Linked DNA regions of Homo sapiens. The protein of the gene in region 1 purifies or fractionates together with the protein of each later gene. This does not show direct contact. Each region holds a gene or a part of one and is shown in the gene's direction. Other genes may lie near its edges. The genes, in order: EPHX1, RIOK2, PTTG1IP and CDK11B.

The links.
Region 2: the proteins of EPHX1 (region 1) and RIOK2 fractionate together in Homo sapiens (co-fractionation; one large-scale study listed by BioGRID). This does not show direct contact.
Region 3: the proteins of EPHX1 (region 1) and PTTG1IP fractionate together in Homo sapiens (co-fractionation; one large-scale study listed by BioGRID). This does not show direct contact.
Region 4: the proteins of EPHX1 (region 1) and CDK11B fractionate together in Homo sapiens (co-fractionation; one large-scale study listed by BioGRID). This does not show direct contact.

What each region holds. Positions count from the first base shown.
Region 1 is NC_000001.11:225,815,807-225,820,517, forward strand, and holds part of EPHX1 (epoxide hydrolase 1), read left to right. Parts: intron 1-4,711. UniProt on the Homo sapiens protein: Biotransformation enzyme that catalyzes the hydrolysis of arene and aliphatic epoxides to less reactive and more water soluble dihydrodiols by the trans addition of water.
Region 2 is NC_000005.10:97,163,308-97,167,458, reverse strand, and holds part of RIOK2 (serine/threonine-protein kinase RIO2), read left to right. Parts: coding exon of another isoform or gene 1-20; exon of another isoform or gene 21-713; intron 714-2,311; coding exon 2,312-2,408; intron 2,409-4,151. UniProt on the Homo sapiens protein: Serine/threonine-protein kinase involved in the final steps of cytoplasmic maturation of the 40S ribosomal subunit. Involved in export of the 40S pre-ribosome particles (pre-40S) from the nucleus to the cytoplasm.
Region 3 is NC_000021.9:44,859,666-44,864,376, reverse strand, and holds part of PTTG1IP (pituitary tumor-transforming gene 1 protein-interacting protein isoform 1 precursor), read left to right. Parts: exon of another isoform or gene 1-409; intron 410-507; exon of another isoform or gene 508-584; intron 585-3,105; coding exon 3,106-3,214; intron 3,215-4,711. UniProt on the Homo sapiens protein: May facilitate PTTG1 nuclear translocation.
Region 4 is NC_000001.11:1,642,005-1,646,715, reverse strand, and holds part of CDK11B (cyclin-dependent kinase 11B), read left to right. Parts: intron 1-1,426; coding exon of another isoform or gene 1,427-1,453; coding exon 1,454-1,590; intron 1,591-4,207; coding exon 4,208-4,330; coding exon of another isoform or gene 4,331-4,369; intron 4,370-4,711. UniProt on the Homo sapiens protein: Plays multiple roles in cell cycle progression, cytokinesis and apoptosis. Involved in pre-mRNA splicing in a kinase activity-dependent manner. Isoform 7 may act as a negative regulator of normal cell cycle progression.

The sequences.
Region 1 (4,711 bases):
TTCAGTGCTCTCCTGTTACACACTGCAAGGAAGCTTCCAGATCGTGGAGCACATTGTTGAGGAAAAGACACCTTGGGGAGAAGGGGGAGGTGCAGAGTGTGGTTAATGGTGGGAAGGAACTCCGGTAAGTGTGTTATATGATCTGCTCCTATTATCCCCTGGAATAGGAGCCTCTCTCCACTCAAGTAGAGAATGCCAAGGACTGGCCCGGCATGGTGGCTCATGCCTGTAATCCCGGCACTTTGGGAGGCCAAAGCAGGCGGATCGCTTAACAGGAGTTTGAGACCAGCCTGGCCAACATGGCGAAACCCCTTTCCTACTAAAAATACAAAAATCAGCCGGGCATGGTGGTGGCAGGTGCCTGTAATCCCAGCTACTCAGGAGGCTGAGGCATGAGAATTGCTTGAATCTGGGAGGTCGAGGCTGCAGTGAGCTGAGATTGCACCATTGCACTCCAGCCTGGGCAATAAAGCAAGGCTCTGTCTTTAAAATTAAAAGAAAAAACAAGTTATTCTAACTTTTTTTAATTTTAAAAGATTAAAAAAAGAGAATGTCAAGGACTGAAATTGCATAGAGGGCAATGCTTTTTCTTTATAGGTGGTGAACTGGGTTCTGCTTGAGTTTTTTCTCTGGTAATTTAGAACCAATGGAAGCAACTCAACAGCTCTAATTTTAATTGGCAGAATGTGAGATGGAATGGGACCTCAAATGAAACTCCAGGCCAAGAGCTCATGAGCCCTGCAGCATGTGGGGCATCTCTCGGTCTTCTTGAGTTCTGTAACTTAAAGTTTGTGTGGCCTTTAAAGAGTGTGGAAGTAGCCGTCCCCTCTCCGAAGGTGCACAGGATTTGGCCAGCCCACCCGCGTGGCCTTCCCCTTCCCCTCTCCAGACCCTCCACAGCAGATGGGGCCACGGAGGCCTGGAGAAGTGGAGTCACTGACCTGAGGCTACATGGCTGGCAGGCAGCAGGGCCAGGCAGCAAAGCAGGCAGTGAGGGCCTAACTGCCCGCGGGCTGGCTCGGGGCTCCCTCAACCACATTGGCATCCCAGTGCCAATCCCAAATTGTTTTCTTTCTATCTCTCCAGACATGTAGATAGCATGGAGGTGGAGGGAATTCCCTCCCACACAGAGGGCGATATGCCCCAGAACAGCACTCCTGCCCCCAAGAAGGCTGTCTCCTGACACTTTTTACTGCTCTTTTACTCTCCCCCAGCTTTTTTTTTCCTGCTTGTAAACTGCATTTTTCCTTTCCCTTGGTTTCTGGCTCTAAGCTGTTTTCCCAGGGCTTGGCTCCGGCGCTTGCACAGAGATAAACACGGCCATTGGCCTGGTGCACAATCCCAGCTTGCCTGCATCCGGCCTCTTCCATCCTGAGTCTCCAGGGGTCCCTGGGGTTCAGGGACAATGGCTGAGGGAGAAGCTGGGAGTTCCCCCCAGGGTTTGCCTCCGTCACTCTTGGGCCAGCCAAGGGAGTGGGGCTGGGAGCTTCAGGATGGCTTTTGGGAAGCCCCTGGGAGCCCCAAGGCTTGGGTAGCTGCTGACAGGGAGTTCACAGCAGGAACGCTCCCAGGCTCCCATCCTGCGTCCGCTTGGCAGGCAGGCCAGGAATGGGAGGGAAGCCATCCGTTTTTCCCTTTCCACTGGATGTTCCCTTCGCCTTCCCCAGGGAGGAGTGATGAGGCTGGGGTGCTGGGGAGGGCAGTATGGGGGCAGGCTTGGGACCAGGCCTGCAGAAGCAGCAGACCCTCCAAGCCCACCTACCTCTCTGGCCTGGCATCTGAGGGGCAGGTCATGCCATAGTTTTTCCCTTACCCTCTCTGCCCCCACACTTTCCTCCCCAAAGTGGCAGACTTCCCCCAGGAGAAGCACTGGCTTTTCACGCTGCTGTGAGTCTCAGTCACTATTAGAGAAACACAGTCAGAGCCAGGCCTGCCCAACTGTCGCAGGGCTGGGTCCACCTCATGGCCTTTGTTCTGGAAAAATACTTGGGCATTCTGCCCTGCAATGCACTTAGCCAAGGCCGGGCACATGGCAAGTGCTGAGTCATGGCCGGCTAGCACTTTACTGCGATTTTAGGAGCACTTTCTTGTGGTGAGGTTCTGACTGCTTGCTTGGGTTGGGGGAGGGGAGTCTTTGGGCAGGCGGTAGACCTGCCCTTTACTTTGTGTGGCCGGATCTGAGTCTGACCCCATCTTTTTAGACCCAAAACCCTGATATTTGTAGTGCGCCTAGGATACTGGTTCTCCAGTCTTCTTTGGGGTCAGGGGGCGTTATAGTGCCTCATGCCACCTACTCAGCCCTCTTCCTGCATCTTATGGTCTGTCTCTACCAACTAGGCTAAGTAGGTTATATTTATTATTCCTCAAGGGGAATTCAGCTCTTCTTGTTCAAAAGTTCTGATTAATTTTCTATGCTCTCATTCAAAGAATTTTTAAATTCATTCATTCATTCAACAAATAATTAAGCTTCTACTAGAATGCCAGGCACTGAGAGTCCAGATGGGAGCCAAAGCAGACATGGTCAGTGGCCTACAGGAGCTTCCGTCCAGCTGTCAGTCACATAATCACCCTGACAAATGTGAGCTCGACGAAGGCTAGGACTGAGAGATCTGCCTTGCTGGGATAGGTCAGGAGAGGCTACCCAGAGGAGGGACAGTCAGTCTGAAATCTGAAAGGTGGATAGAAGTTAGGGAGGTGGGAAGGGGAGGGAATAGCTTTTCGACAGAGGGATTCGCCTTCATAAAGCCCCACAGTAAGACAGCATGGTGAGCACAAAACTGAAAGATCGGGGGGCAGCGTGAGATCCCAGCCCTAAAACTCTCACTTAGCTTTCAAGTAAACTGTTTCTCCATAATATTGATACCAGTAGCACTCTGAGGGGCTAGGGGAGTGGTGAGATCACACAGGCCTTGAAGGCCACACTAACCCAAGGACAATGGGAAGCTCTTTAAGGGTTTCGCAGGGGATGGGATATACATGATCAGATTTGCATTTCCAAAAGATCACTCTGGCCTGGCTCATGCCTGTAATCCAGCTATTTGGGAGGCTAAAGCAGGAGGATCACTTGAGCCCAGGAGTTTGAGACCAGCCTGGGCAATATAGTGAGAACCTGTCTCCATTAAAAAAAAAAAAAAAAAAAAGGTTTGTATGGTGGCTCACGCCTGTAATCCCAGCACTTTGGGAGGCGGAGGCGGGCGGATCACGAGGTCAGGAGATTGAGACCATCCTGGCCAATATGGTGAAACCCCATCTCTGCTAAAAATACAAAAAATTAGCCGGGCGTAGTGGCGGGCGCCTGTAGTCCCAGCTACTTGGGAGGCTGAGGCAGGAGAATGGCGTGAACCCGGGAGGCGGAGCTTGCAGTGAGCCGAGATTGCGCCACTGCACTCCAGCCTGGGCGACAGAGCGAGACTCCGTCTCAAAAAAAAAAAAAAAAAAAAATACAAAAATTATCTGGGCATGGTGGCATGCGCCTGTAGTCCCCGCTACTCAGGAGACTGAGGCAGGAGACTTGCTTGAACCAGGGCGGAGGTTGCAGTGAGCCGAGATCGTGCCACTGCACTCCAGCCTGGGGACAGAGAGAGACTCCATCTAAAAAAAAAAAAAATGTTTTAAAAAGATTGCTGTGGCTTCAGAGTGGCCATTGTGTTGGAAGGGGTAGAGCAGATGTGAGTGGACCGGGCAGGGTAGTAGTCCAGGGGAGAGCCACAGGAACCTGGGCTGGGTTGGAGATGGATTTGAGATGTACTTTGGAAGTTCAGCTGCCAGAACTTACTGATATCTGTGGCGGAGTGAAGGAGAGGGGTTTCAAGGACGTTGCCTGGGTTTTTGGCTTGGCAGTAGCAGGGCGGGTAATGTCAGTTACTGAGGGAGGGAACACCAAGAGAAGACAAAGTTTAGGGGGACAGGATCACAGTGCGATTTCAGATGCACTGGAGAAAATTTTGACACAAGGTACTGTCTGGGCCCCAGGTGGCTCTGCTCTAATACATTTATAACTCTTTGTCCGCACTTAATCACTCTGTCATACTTAGCTGCCAGGGGGCCAAGAAATGTCAAGTGTTTGGCTGGTCTTCTCCAACTAAAATTAAAAATCCTTTGCTAAGGAAGAAGGAGAGAACATTGCTAGCAGTCTGCCTCAACATCCCAATCTGATGGCGTATTTGCCGCAGCCACCAGCTCATCAAGGACAGCTGCGGTGAACCTTTGAGTTCTGAGTAATCTCCTGTCTGGGCCACCTTTCTTCACTCAACCACAAAATCCTCACATTCCCAAGTATATTTTCTTTCTTTCTTTTTTTTGTTTTTTTGAGACAGAGTCTTGCTGTGTTCCCCAGGCTGGAGTGCAGTGGTGTGATCTTGGCTCACTGCAACCTCCGCCTCCTGGGTTCAAGCAATTCTCCCTGCCTCAGCCTCCTGAGTAGCTGGGATTACAGGCATGCCCGGCTAATTTTTGTATTTTTAGTAGAGACGGAGTTTCACCATGTTGGCCAGGCTGGTCTTGAACTCCTGACCTCAGGTGATCTGCCCACCTTGGCCTCCAAAGTGCTGGGATTACAAGCATGAGCCACCACGCCTGTCCCCAAGTATATTTTCTTAGCTCACTCTTTTCAGCATGTAATTTACAGAAGGGTAATCTGAATTGTAAACACGATTTCTAAGTTAAAACTCCTGGGTCAGCTCGTGATGAAGTAGCAATTTATAAAAGAGAT
Region 2 (4,151 bases), on another chromosome or scaffold:
TTCTGTCGATTGCTTTTTAACTTTAGTCTTGAGACTGATACTTTGTTAGATTCTAGTAAAAGAATGTTTTTTTCAAATGATGTGACAAAATTGTATTCTGCCACCTTGATGTATAAAATGAAAGCCAAATAATTTTTTGTTGTTAAAAACTCAAAATAGCTTCCTTTTCAATTGACCTGATTCTAGGCAGCCTATTGACTAAATTTCAAGTAATTCTGCCTTAAAATACAAACTGATGGCTGGGCACAGTGGCTCGCTCATGCCTGTAATCTCAGCACTTCTGGGAGGCCAAGGCAGGCAAATCACCTGAGGTCAGGAGTTTGAGACCAGCCAGGCCAACATGGCAAAACCCTGTCTCTACTAAAAATATAAAAATTAACCGGGCATGGTGGCCTGTGCTTGTAATCCCAGCTACTTGGGAGACTGAGGCAGGAGAATCACTTGAACCTGGGAGGCAGAGGTTGCAGTAAGCCAAAGATCGTACCACTGCACTCCAGCCTGGGTGACGAGCAAAAAACTCCGTCTCAAAAATATATATATATATACAAACTGATGATTTTAAAATTATTGCAGGTCTCTGGATACATTGATCAGGTTTTAGATGGATGAGTTATTCCTCATATATTTTCCTAATTACACATCTGATGTGTGTTTGAGTTATGTAAAGGCATGTAAATATTAAAACATGCAATAAATGTACTTTCTATATGAAACATCTGCAGTGAATTTTCTCTAGTACCTTGAGCCTTCTATCCTTTGTTCATGTGTAGTTAAAATTATCTAATGATATTATGTTTTCTTTTAATAATTTTTTTTTGTAAATATTAATCAGGCTCAGCTTAGATTAGGAAAAGTTCTAAAACTTAATTTTTGGATTTGGGATTGCTTATTCAGAATCAAATTGTAGTTAAATGAAATATTGGTTTTATTTATTTCAAAATAGTAATATGACAATTAAAATTAGTTCAGCAATACATTTATTAAACATTTTTCAGTACATGTTTGGGCTTATATCTTAAGCCTACCTTTATCTTTAAAGTTTTATTCCTGAAGCAAAACATGAGAATTTTGTTCCTTTTTCATATAGCTGTGTATCTGTGTCACAGGGCTACTGCCATTTAAATAATAAACTTGGAAAATTAAATCAGAAGCTTAAAAGGAAAAGAGGGGTGACAGAGGCTCAGGATTTTGAGTAAGTGATTGTATTAGACTGGATTCTTCAAAGAAACAGAATAAATAGGAGATTTATTTTAAGGAATTAGCCCATGGGGTTATGGAGGCTGAGAAGTCCCAGGATCTGTAGTCAACAAGCTAGAGACCAAGGAGAGCCCATGGTACAGTTCCAGTCCAAATCCAAAGAGCTAAGAACCAGAAGAGACAATAGCATAAGTTCCAGTCCACATCCAAAGAAAGGAGAGGACCCATGTCCCAGTTCAAAGACAGTTCTCTCTTACTTTGCCTTTTTGTTCTCATCAGGCCTTCAATGGATTGGATGAGGTCCACCCACACTGGGGAGGGCAATCTGCTATACTCAGTTTATTGATTCAGAAACGCCCTCAAAGACACACCCAAGTTAATGTTTAACCAAATATATGGCACCCTGAGGCCCAGTCAAGTTAACATATAAAATTAACCATCACAGTGATAGAAGAAAATCTATATAGGATTAAATGGTCTTTTAAACTCAGAATGGGAACAATAATTTTGTTCCCACTCTGGATACATGCTGGGCAAAACTTCCATTCAAAGTAAAAGCAGAACAGCAGATGTTGCTGAAAAATATTAACTGTTAGGAGTTAATATCGTCCGAGTTTTTATACATTGCATATATTGAAACTTTGAGCCATGTGAAAAACATTAGTCTCTAGGTTGCAGATTTTCCTACCCTAGTGGAGCTGACTATAATGAGTACTGTCTGTTTCCATTATATCTTCTGTTTGTGAAGGTGGAAAGAGTCTCAAAAATTTAGATAGGGAGAGACAGATTTATATAGTTCAGTGAAAGAAGAGGAGAGGATTATTAGAAAAGGGAAGATGAATTGTGGGGAGGTGATAAATTTCAATGGCTTAAGCATTCTACTGTTTTTAAATTTTGATAGTGACTAACAAAATGCTGGAAAATGAAAATTGTTAATGTATAGAACTTAACAGTAGGTAGTTTTATCTTCACAGAAATTTTAAAATATAATGATCTTTCTGAAGTATTTTATGTCTTCAGTTTTGCTGCATGCAAAAAATAATATAAATTAATCAAATGGGATTCATTACATTATACAAATTAACTAGATAAATTGTGGGTTTTTTAATTTTAGAGATGAAGAAAATGTGGGAGCTATGAATCAGTATAGAACAAGAACTCTGAGTATCACTTCTTCAGGCAGTGCTGTAAGCTGTTCAACAATTCCTCCAGTAAGTAGTCATTCAACATGTACTGAATGTTTATTACATCACTACTGTGATCTGATTGCCTTGTCTCATTAAACAATAATGTATGCCTTTCAGGTACAGACTTCTGTTGATTGCTTTTTGACTTGTCTTGAAACCAGTACTTTCTTTGATTTTAATAAATGAATGTTGCTCAAAGGATGTGGTAGAGTTGTGTCCTGCCACCATTATGTGTAAAATGAAGGCCAAATGACTTTTTGTTGGTAAAACTCAAAACACCTTCTTTTTCAATTGTCCTGATTTTAGGCAGCCTGTTGACTAAATTTCAAGTAATTTTTTCTTAGAATACAAACTGATGAGTTTCAAAAAATTAATGTAGGTCACTTGATAAATTGATCAGGTTTGAGGTGGATGAGTCATTCTTCATATGAGCTGAAGATTAATGAGCTTGGTCACTGTGAGGATTATAAGGTGTGTAAGCCTCAGACACTTGGACGTACATGTTAATGGTATAAAATTTTGTTGTTGTTGTTTGTTTTTGTTTTTGTTTTTTTTTTGAGATGGAGTTTTGCTCTTGTCATCCAGGCCGGAGGTCATCCAGGCTAGAGTGCAGTGGCATGATCTCAGCCCACTGCAACCTCCGCCTCCTGGGTTCAAGCAATTCTCCTGCCTCAGCTTCCCGAGTAGCTTGGATTACAGGCGCCTACCACCATGGCTGGCTAATTTTTGTATTTTTAGTAGAGACAAGGTTTCACCATGTTGGCCAGGCTGGTCTCGAACTCCTGACCTCAGGTGATCCACCCACCTCAGCCTCCCAAAGTGCTGGGATTTCAGGCGTGAGCCACTGCGCCCAGCCATTTGTACTTGGATATAAGTACAAATTTGGCCGGGCATAGTGGCTCAGACCTGTGATCCCAGCACTTTGGGGGCCAAGGTGGAAGGATCGCTTGAGCCCAAGAGTTTCAGGCCAGCCTGGGCAACATAGCAAGACCCCTGTCTACAAAAAATTTAAAAGTTAGCCAGGTGTAGTGGTATACACCTGTATTCCCAGCTACTCAGGAGACTGAGGCAGAAAGATCACTCAAGCCCAGGAGGTTGCAGCCACCGTGAACTGTGTTCCTGCCACTGCACTCCAACCTGGGCAACACAGCAAGACCCTGTCTCAAAAAAAAAAAGAAGACCCTTGTTCCTGGCTTTGCAGAGTTTTGCAGCTATCTTCTTTTTTAGGAGAAAAGTTGAATGATACAAGGTTATATACAGTTATTAAATAACAGACTGTAGTGCTTCAGAGAAAGAAAAGGTCATTGTGAACTGAGTATTTCACATTTCTTATTCATCTTGTAAGTCATGTGACTTGCACAGTGTATCTTAACTGATAAGTAACTTGAATTTATGATCAAAAGACATATGAAGACTTTTCCATGGGTGATTGCTACCATCAGGTCAATTCTACAGCTGAAACTGTGAAGGCATTCTTGGATATATTCAGCAATACTGAATGCTTTCAAAAATAATTTTCTATACAAAATCTACTCTAAAAGCCTACTTTTAACCTAAAAAGCAGAGGAACAAGCAGTTTCATCTTGTTTTTTCCATCAGTTTTCATGATGGACACTAGGTGGCACTATGGTAATTTTTTAAAAATTCTGCCTATACACTATATTTTTTGCTATATAATCTGTATTTCTGTTTGGAATTTAATTTCTCCTATATAACAGTTTCTATATAGTACTGTCAGTGTTTGGAATCTTAAAATTCATGGTGTCA
Region 3 (4,711 bases), on another chromosome or scaffold:
GTCCTTTGGTTTTCTCTGCGTGGTGGCCTGCGCCTGGGCCAGCCTGGCTGGCACCTCTTGGGCTTGCCTTGCCACGCAGCTCTTGGTTCGGCAGCACCCAAGTCTCCTCGCAGCGCTATGAAATCAGCACGGGAAACCTGAGGGAAGGCCCACGGCAGCGGGAAGTGGTTAGGCAGAAAACAGCATCCTGTGGGGCCTTTTTCTTAGGATTCCTGATCTCGCCCACCCCTTGCCCCTTCCAGTCAGGAGTTTACCAGGTTTTGAGAACTGCAGGGCCAGAGGCTTCCTTTCCCCGGCAATGAGGTTTCATGATATGAGGAGGCCGGGAAAGATGTATTCGATGATTTCTATTCTAAGGCATGAGCCATGTTCTTAAAAACTCTTCTTCCTCCACGAGACCGTAGCGTAGGTTTGAGGAGGCCGGGAAAGATGTATTCGATGATTTCTATTCTAAGGCATGAGCCATGTTCTTAAAAACTCTTCTTCCTCCACGAGACCGTAGCGTAGGTTCGAGACACACCCTGTCAGTTTGTGGGACTTAAGTGGATACTTGCATTTGCTGATTAAAAATTGAAAGACGCTGTTTCTGTGGTTTCAGATCTTGACATTGGTGATGTTGAACCTGCTCTAATGCGCCTGGTCCTGGTGCATTTTCTAGATGGTGCTTCTTTTTAGTCTCTGGATTTTTCTATTGGAAGTCATTTCAGCTTTAAACATAGCTCACTATTGTATGTGGCTTTGTAGCCTAGAGTGCGTTTTTGCCATAGTACCCTGTGTAACCCTCACCACCCTGGGCAGGGTGTGGTGATGACAGCCATCTCGTGGATGAGGCGGCTGAGGGACTTGCCCAGGTCATTGTGGATGGGGCCAGTCCAGAAGGGCTGAAGGCCTGACTCCAGTTCTGAACCCAGACAGGGCGGTGAAGAGGGCCGCTTGCCCTACAGTAGCTCCAGGCGTGTGTGGGTGTGCTCTTGGGCACACAGGAGGTTTCTGGAAGGAGGTGTCAGTGCCTGGGAGGTCTCAAGAGGACCTGCGTGTTGGAGCAGTGGCTATGGTGGGCTGTGTCCACGCTCCTGAGGCCGTGGCGGGCTGTGTGTCTCTGTGTTGCCGAGGCCGTGGCGGGCTGTGTCTCTGCTGCTGAGGCCGTGGTGGGCTGTGTCTCTGCTGCTGAGGCCGTGGTGGGCTGTGTCTCTGCTGCTGAGGCCGTGGTGGGCTGTGTCTCTGCTGCTGAGGCCGTGGTGGGCTGTGTCTCTGTGCTGCTGAGGCCGTGGCGGGCTGTGTGTCTCTGTGTTGCCGAGGCCGTGGCGGGCTGTGTGTCTGTGCTGCTGCCTGAGCTGCTTGCTATGTGCATATTACTTCATCGATCAGAAAAGCAGCACAACCACCAGAGAACACCGTATCCTCCCAGTGCAGTCCTGTGGCTCATGGTACCACTGTCATGGAAAAATGGAAAATCAGACATTTACAACTTGAGCCACTTGAAAAGGGAGGATTAGCCAAAAATCGTTAATTGCAAGCAAAACCCCTGAAATGGAAGATACTCCCAAATGACCAGAATAAACAGGGTTTAACTGTTAATTGTTACATTATGCTGGAAACCACTTAAACACGACACTAAGGTGGTCACTGTATAAGTAGCCCTGGGAAAGAAGGCCCAGGGGACATTGTAATTAATATTTTTTTGTAATAGACTTTTGCCCTAACCTGGGCCAAAAACGCCATGACTTTCTATCCTATTAAAAAGTCAGTAACACTGTTAATGTGGAGATTGGGAGTAACAGGCAGTCTGGACTTGGGTCTGGACTTGGGCTGGCGCATGAGGTGCTGCCGAACGGCAGTTCTTTTTTTTTTCCTTTTGAGACGGAGTTTCACTCTTGTTGCCCAGGCTGGAGTGCAATGGTGCGATCTCGGCTCACCGCAACCTGCGCCTCCTGGGCTCAAGCGATTCTCCTGCCTCAGCCTCTGGAGTAGCTGGGATTACAGGCATGTGCCACCACGCCCGGCTTATTTTGTATTTTTAACAAAGATGGGGTTTCTCCATGTTGGTCAGGCTGATCCCGAACTTCTGACCTCAGGTGATCCGCCCTCCTGGCCTCCCAAAGTGCTGGGATTACAGGCGTGAGCCACCGTGCCTGACCCGAACAGCAGTTCTTTCACCCCTTCCTGTGCCATCTGCCTGCGTGCTAGGCTGTCCCCTGTCACGCTCAGTGCCTGGCTCACAGACCGCTTTCGGGCCTCGTTGTGTACTGCTGTGGCATGGGCTGGGCCCAGCTCTGGGCTCTTACACACACACACACGGGTGTGATGGTGTTGTCTCCACACCACTGCGGCCTCACACCTGACGTTCAAGGGGCTCAGACAAGAGCGTCTATGAGGTTCTCTCCAGCTGTCAGTTTAGGGCGGGCTGAGCCGTAGTTGCATCATCTTTCAAGCTGTGCGACTTAGTGCAGTTGTGAAGGTCAGAGGTAGGAAGCATGGTCCTTGCTACAGATGGTGACCATGCTCACCCAAGTCCATTCAACACAAACTCAGTGAGTGCCTGTGATGGGCCAGGCTGTGTCCTGTGTTCTTGGGAGACTTCAGCCAGTGAAGTGCACAGGTGCCCGGCGTGTGGGGAGGAGAGGTCTACGGAAGCAAACCTCACAGGAGGTGAGGAGGAGGGGGTGGAGGCGGCTGGTTGTGTCCAGTCTGTTGATCGAGGCAGGGCCCATCCAGTCAGTGGGGAGCCACACAGATGTGGGGAGAGTGCTCCAGGCAGAACCGGCAGGCTGAGCTGAGGCTGAGAGCATGAGGTGGGGTTGGCAGCACTCAGGAGGCTGCCAACACAGAGGCCCCGTGGCCTCAGCAGGGTGAGTTGTGGAAGAGGCCTGAGTGACGCGGGCCTTGGATGAGTCCGTGGAGAGCTGACAGGGCTGCTGGCCGCTGTGCTGGGTGTGGACCGAAGGGCGCTGAGGGTGAAGGCAGAGATGAGGCGTTGAGGGGGAGGTTGAGCCTTTACAGCCATCCACAGAGCGATGGCAGCACTGGCGGGCTGTGGGCAGAGCCTGGACAGTTCTTTGGTTTTTCTGTTGTTTCTAATGCTTGCTTAATGTTGGTCTCTTTCAGTGTCTTTGGTGCAACACTAACAAGGCTTGTCTGGACTACCCAGTTACAAGCGTCTTGCCACCGGCTTCCCTTTGTAAATTGAGCTCTGCACGCTGGGGAGTTTGTTGGGGTAAGTCATTGTTTTCATTTGCTGCTTGCAAAATCGATGCTTCTTTGAAAATAGTAGTATGGGCCGGGCGCGGTGGCTCACGTCTGTAATCCCAGCACTTTGGGAGGCGGAGGCGGGTGGATCAAGAGGTCAGGAGATTGAGACCATCCTGGCTAACATGGTGAAGCCCCGTCTCTATTAAAAATACAAAAATTAGGTGGGCGTGGTGGCATGCACTTGTAATCCCAGCTACTTGGGAGGCTGAGACAGGAGAATTGCTTGAACCCGGGAGGCGGAGTTTGCAGTGAGCCGAGATCGTGCCACTGCACTCCAGCCTGGCGACAGAGCGAGACTGTCTCAAAAAAAAAAGAAAATAGTATTATGTGCTCAGTTAGCAGAAGTTGCTAGAAAATGTGCTGCCAGTAGCTCTGTGACTCCCAGGGAGAGGTTGGGAAGCCAGGGGTGATCTGCTGACCGGGAAAGCAGCCCTGGGGAACCTGGAGGACCTCCTTCAAGGTGGTCAGCCCCAGCACTGAGCTCTATCTCACCACGTTACAGAAGGTGTGGGGAAAAGGGTGAGTTTGAAGGCAACGTGTTTGACTTCTCTGCTCAGTATGTTTTGTTCATGTGTCACCCCTGAAACTCACCTGTGAATTCCCCTAGAATCTCCAGTTTTCCCAGCTTAAGAATCCCTGCTTGCGTAGACAGCCCTCTTTTTTTGTGTGCGTATCTTTGTATATTTGATTTTGGAGGCGTTTTTAAATTAAGGAAATCAGCTCTTGTGAGATTCAAGTTGTTTTCTAGTTTGCCTTTATTTATTTATTTATTTATTTTTGAGACGGGCTGGAGTGCAATGGCACTATCTTGGCTCACTGCAAGCTCCGCCTCCCAGGTTCACGCCATTCTCCTGCCTCAGCCTCCTGAGTAGCTGGGACTACAGGTGCCCGCCACCACGTCCGGCTAATTTCTTGTATTTTTTAGTAGAGACGGGGTTTCACTGTGTTAGCCAGGATGGTCTCGATCTCCTGACCTCATGATCTGCCCACCTCAGCCTCCCAAAGTGCTGGGATTACAGGCGTGAGCCACTGCGCCCAGCCCCGTAGTTTGCCTTTTAAATCAGTTTGTGGTGTGTTTTGTAACCTAGAACTCATTATTATGTAGTTGAATTTATTAATCTTTTAGGCTTCAGGTTTTGGGGTAATACATAGGGTTCCTAAACTTTGTAAAGAAGCAATATTTTCTTAAGGTGTTTTGATGATTCTTTTTGTTTATTTGCATCTTGGATCCCTCTGCAACTTACGTCTTACTTACCACTCTTCTAATTGATTTCCATTTCAAAATCTATCAGCCTCCATCTGAAACAACTTGTTGCTGGTGTTGAGGCCCTAGAGAATTCAAAAGTTTGTGTGGTGGTGGTGGTTGTAGTGTGGGATGTCTGGCAGGGGGTGGTGGTGGTGTGTGTGCACCTTCATGTGTGATGTGTGTACTGTGTGTGATGCATGTGTGTTTGTGAACTCA
Region 4 (4,711 bases), about 220 Mb from region 1:
ATTCATTGTTGGCGAAACCTGCCTTAAAGGAAATACTAAAGGAAGACCTTCAAGTTGAATAGAAATGACACCAGACGGTAACTTGAATCCTCAGGAAGGAAGGACAGGCACTGCAGATAGCAAGTGTAGGTTGACGTCAATATCCTGTAACTATCTCTCCTCACATCTTAGGTTTTACTGGAACTACGATTGTATAAAATAATTACACTGTTGTCATGGTATGTGGCATAAATGGACTGCACAAAGAAGACAGGGAATAAAGCTGTGTTACAACAGTTTTATATTGTACTGGACTTGAGCTAGTATCATGAGGCATACGGTGATCCCTAGAGCAACCACTAAGAAAGTTGTTTTCTTAGTGTTTTAAAAAGTACAAATAAATTAAAATGGTATGCTAAACATATGTAATTTAAAATCAAAAAGGGAAGAATAAAAAAGACACAACAAAGCAAGGAAAGTAAATCCAACTGTACGTGTAATTATATGACATGTGAAAGGTCTCTGTGCCCCAAACAGACAGGGCAGATTATCAGATAGAAAAACAAGATCTAACTGTATGCTGTCTGCTAGAGAACAGGAAAAGACGCAGCGTACAAACATCAGCTGTCATAGGAGAGCTTGAATGGCTGTACTCATACCAGACAAAACAGATGTTAAGAAATATTAGAAACCAGCCTGGCCAACATGGTGAAACCCTGTCTCTACAAAAATCACCTGGGTGTGGTGGCGCACACCTGTAATCCCAGCTACTCGGGAGGCTCAGGTATGAGAATCACTTGAACTCGTGAGATGGAGGTTGCAGTGAGCCGAGATTGCGCCACTGCACTCCAGCCTGGGTGACAAACCAAGACCCTGTCTCAAAAAAAAGCTAGAAACAAGAAGGAGCAAGGACTTCACAGCCAGAAACAGGCCAATACAGCAGGAAGATACAGCAATGATACGTGTGAATGCATCTAACCACAGAGCCCAAAATCCATGAAGCAAACACCGATCGAATGGAAAGAAATGGATCATTTATTAATTAGAATTGGAAATGGCAGCTGGGCACGGTGGCTCGGGCCTGTAAACCCAGCACTTTGAAAAGCGGAGGCAGGCGGATCACGAGGTCAGGAGATTGAGACCATCCTGGCTAACATGGTGAAACCCTCGTCTCTACTAAAAATACAAAAATTAGCTGGGAGTACAGGGCGCACGCCTGTAATCCCAGCTACTCGGGAGGCTGAGGCAGGAGAATCGCTCGAACCCGGGAGGCGGAGGTTGCAGTGAGCCGAGATCGCGCCACCGCACTCCAGCCTGGGGGACAGATGAAGACTCCGTCTCAAAGAAAATAAAATAAAAAAATGAAAAAAAAACTTCACGGATTGAATTACGTAGAAAGCCAGTTTACAAATGTGGACAAAAACGCGATAAGCAAGCTTCTGTTTAGGGGGAATGATGGCGTGTGCCTCTTCAGGGACCGCTTGGAGCAGTTAGAAAGGAAGCGGGAGCGGGAGCGCAAGATGCGGGAGCAGCAGAAGGAGCAGCGGGAGCAGAAGGAGCGCGAGCGGCGGGCAGAGGAGCGGCGCAAGGAGCGGGAGGCCCGCAGGGAAGGTAGGCGGCGCGGTGGGCAGCTGTGCTCGGCGGGACGCGTGTCTGCTGCCCCCTGGTGCTGGGCACTTGCTGTCACAGGCGGGCGCTTGGTTCCGGTGCTTGCTTTTCGCCCCTGCCTTTTTTTTTTTTTTGGAGGCAGAGTTTTGCTCTTGTCCCCCAGGCTGGAGTGCGGTGGCGCGATCTCGGCTCACTGCACCCTCTGCCTCCCGGGTTCAAGTGATCCTCCTGCCTCAGCCTCCGGAGTAGCAGGGATTACAGGCACCCGCCACCATGTTCAGCTATTTTTTTATATTTTTAGTAGAGACAGGGTTTCACCGTGTTAGCCAGAATAGTCTCTTGATCTCTTGGCCTCGTGATCCACCCACCTCGGCCTCCCAAAGTGCTGCGATTACAGGCGTGAGCCACCGCGGCCGGCCAGTACGAGCTTTTATAGTCACCCACGTCCTCACCTTAATGGAGATCTTTATTTCTTCACCCAGCTTCCGGTTTCTGTCTCGCGTCCTTTCCTTACACCCCACACAACTCCCTGGAGCTTATTCTTCAAGGCAGGTCTAGGTCTAGTAGTAATGAACTCCCTCTGCTTTTGTTTATCTGAGAATATCCTCATTTCTCCCTCATCTTTGAAGGAAAGTTTGCTGGATACGTGGTTCTTGGTTGACAATTTTGTTGTTGTTGTTTTGAGACAGAGTCTTCTTCTGTTGCCCAGGCTGGAGTGCAGTGGAGCGATCATAGCTCACTGCAACCTCGAACTCCTGGGCACAAGTGATCTTCCCACCTCAGCCTCCCGCGTAGCTGGGACCTACAGGCGTAGCGTGTGCCACCACACCTGGCTCATTTTTCAGTAGAAACAAGGTGTCCCTGTATTGCCCAGGCTGGTCTTGAATTCCTGGGCTCAAGGAACCCTCATGCCTAGCTGACAGTTTTTCCTTTTCACTTGGACTATTTCAGCCCATTGTCTTCTGGCCTCCAAAGTTTCTGATGAGAAATCTGATGATCTTATAGAGGATCCCTTGGATGCTTTAATCTGATGACCTGATTGAGGATCCCTTGGATGCTTTGAAGATTCTCTTTGCCTTAGGCTTTCAACTGTTTAATAATGGGTTTTCCTGTGGGCCTCTTGACTTCATTCTACCTGGAGTTCACTGAGCCTCTCTAATGTTTATATTTACGGTTTTCATCCAATGTGGGGGTTTTGAGGAATTCTTCAGATACCCTCTCTGCTCCTCTCCTCCCTCCTGGGCTCCCACAGATCTGTTGGGGTCCCCGAGGCCGCTCAGCACTGCTCCCTTTTCTTCAGTCTCTTCTGCTTTCTTTTCCTCAGACGATGTGATTTTATTGTCTTCAGGCTCACCGATTATTTCTTCTGCCTGCTCACATCTGCCTGTGAGTTTCTGTTGTGAATATTTACTTTTTAGTGTCTATTGTGAGCATGTACTTATTAGCTCTGGAATTTCTCTCTGGTTTCTTGTTGGATCTTCTGTCTCTGTTGATATTTCCGTCGTGTTCACGCGTCATTTTCTTGACTTTCTCCACATCTTCCTTTCGTTCTCTGAGGAACTGAAGGTTAAGACAGTTCCCTAAAGTCTTTGGGACATCTACCGTCAGGTGATTTTCAGGAACCGTGTCTGTTGGCTTCTTTTTTTCCCCTCTGAATGGGACATACTGTCCTATTTCTTTGTTTCTCTTGTGTTTTTCTTAGTCAAAAAAATGGACATTTGATTCTCATGATGTGATTCTTCCTGGTCCCCACTCAAGGGTGTGCACTTGTTGTTTTGGTTGTGCTGGGCTGTGTCTGTGGGGTCGGCCTGTTGTGGAAACTCAGGGTCTTCACGGGTCTTTTCTGAGCCTGAGCCTTTTCCTGGTCACGTGCAGCCACTTTTTAACGTTCCCGTCAATACAGATGTTTTTAATGTTCTTGTCCTGAAGTGTCTGCCTCCTAAAGGGGGAATAGAGAGAAATGAAGGGGGCAACGGGGGACGTGGTGCTCATGCCCTGGAAGTACCTTCAGCTTGGGGGTGGCCGTGGCTGCTGCCTCTTCATGCCTCTGGGGTGGGACACGCAGTCATCACACTGACCTCGGGTGTGTGTGTCCGTCTGCCCACCTGGGTCCGGCGAGCTGCATGCAGGCTGCTGCCTGCCAGCGGGGAGTGAGGTGGGAGCCACTAATGTGCGAAGCGGTGACGTTGATTAATGAATCACAGTTTACTCTCCAAGATTCCCCCTGAAGTTGCAAACCTTCAGTAGACTCCAGAGCACCTCAGTAGTTGCACAGGCCTGATCCTGTGATGCAAGTGTTGTCTCGGTGGGGAGACTGATTCCCAGTGCTTCCTACTCCATCTTTCCAGAATCTTCTCCCGCCCCTTCCTTTTTGACCAGTGAAGATCAGTCTAGAAGGTCCACCTGGGTCCTCGGGCTCACGGCCTCCAGGTTGGAGCTTTTTCTCCCTGGGCTTCCTGGGAGACCTCTGGCCTCTGACCCCGATGCTGTCAGCACCCTGTGCACGCTGTGGGTGTGTCTGCCAGGTGCGGGTGTGGGAGACGAGGCAGCTGTGCCGGGTGGGGCCTTTTGAGGAAGGCAGTGCTGCTAGTGCCATCTCCCTCTCTGCCCTGCGCGCCAGTGTCTGCACATCACCGAACGATGAGAGAGGACTACAGCGACAAAGTGAAAGCCAGCCACTGGAGTCGCAGCCCGCCTCGGCCGCCGCGGGAGCGGTTCGAGTTGGGAGACGGCCGGAAGCCAGGTGAGGCCAGGCCGGCGCCTGCGCAGAAGCCAGCACAGTGTGAGTCTTTTCTGGGGGATGTTTGGCATAAGTGTGTAGGATTCATTTAAAGCCCAGCTAAGTAACCGCTTCAGAAGAAAGTGAGAGATGTGCTGGCTGAAGTCCTCTCGTGTCGTGAGAGGGACCGTGAGTGTCTGTGTGCGGCCAGGACACAGGACGTGTGTTTATCCGCTGGGACATTCGCCACTGGCCCCGTTAGAGAAGTGGCTTCCAGCGTCTCTGGATGAGCTGGTTTCCGACCAAGCAAAGTTAATCGTTACGTGAAAGGCACTAGTTTTGGGGTGGTGGTAGCTTGTTTGTTTAAAAACATTTCCCCAAATTCACCTTTATGGTTTATCTCAT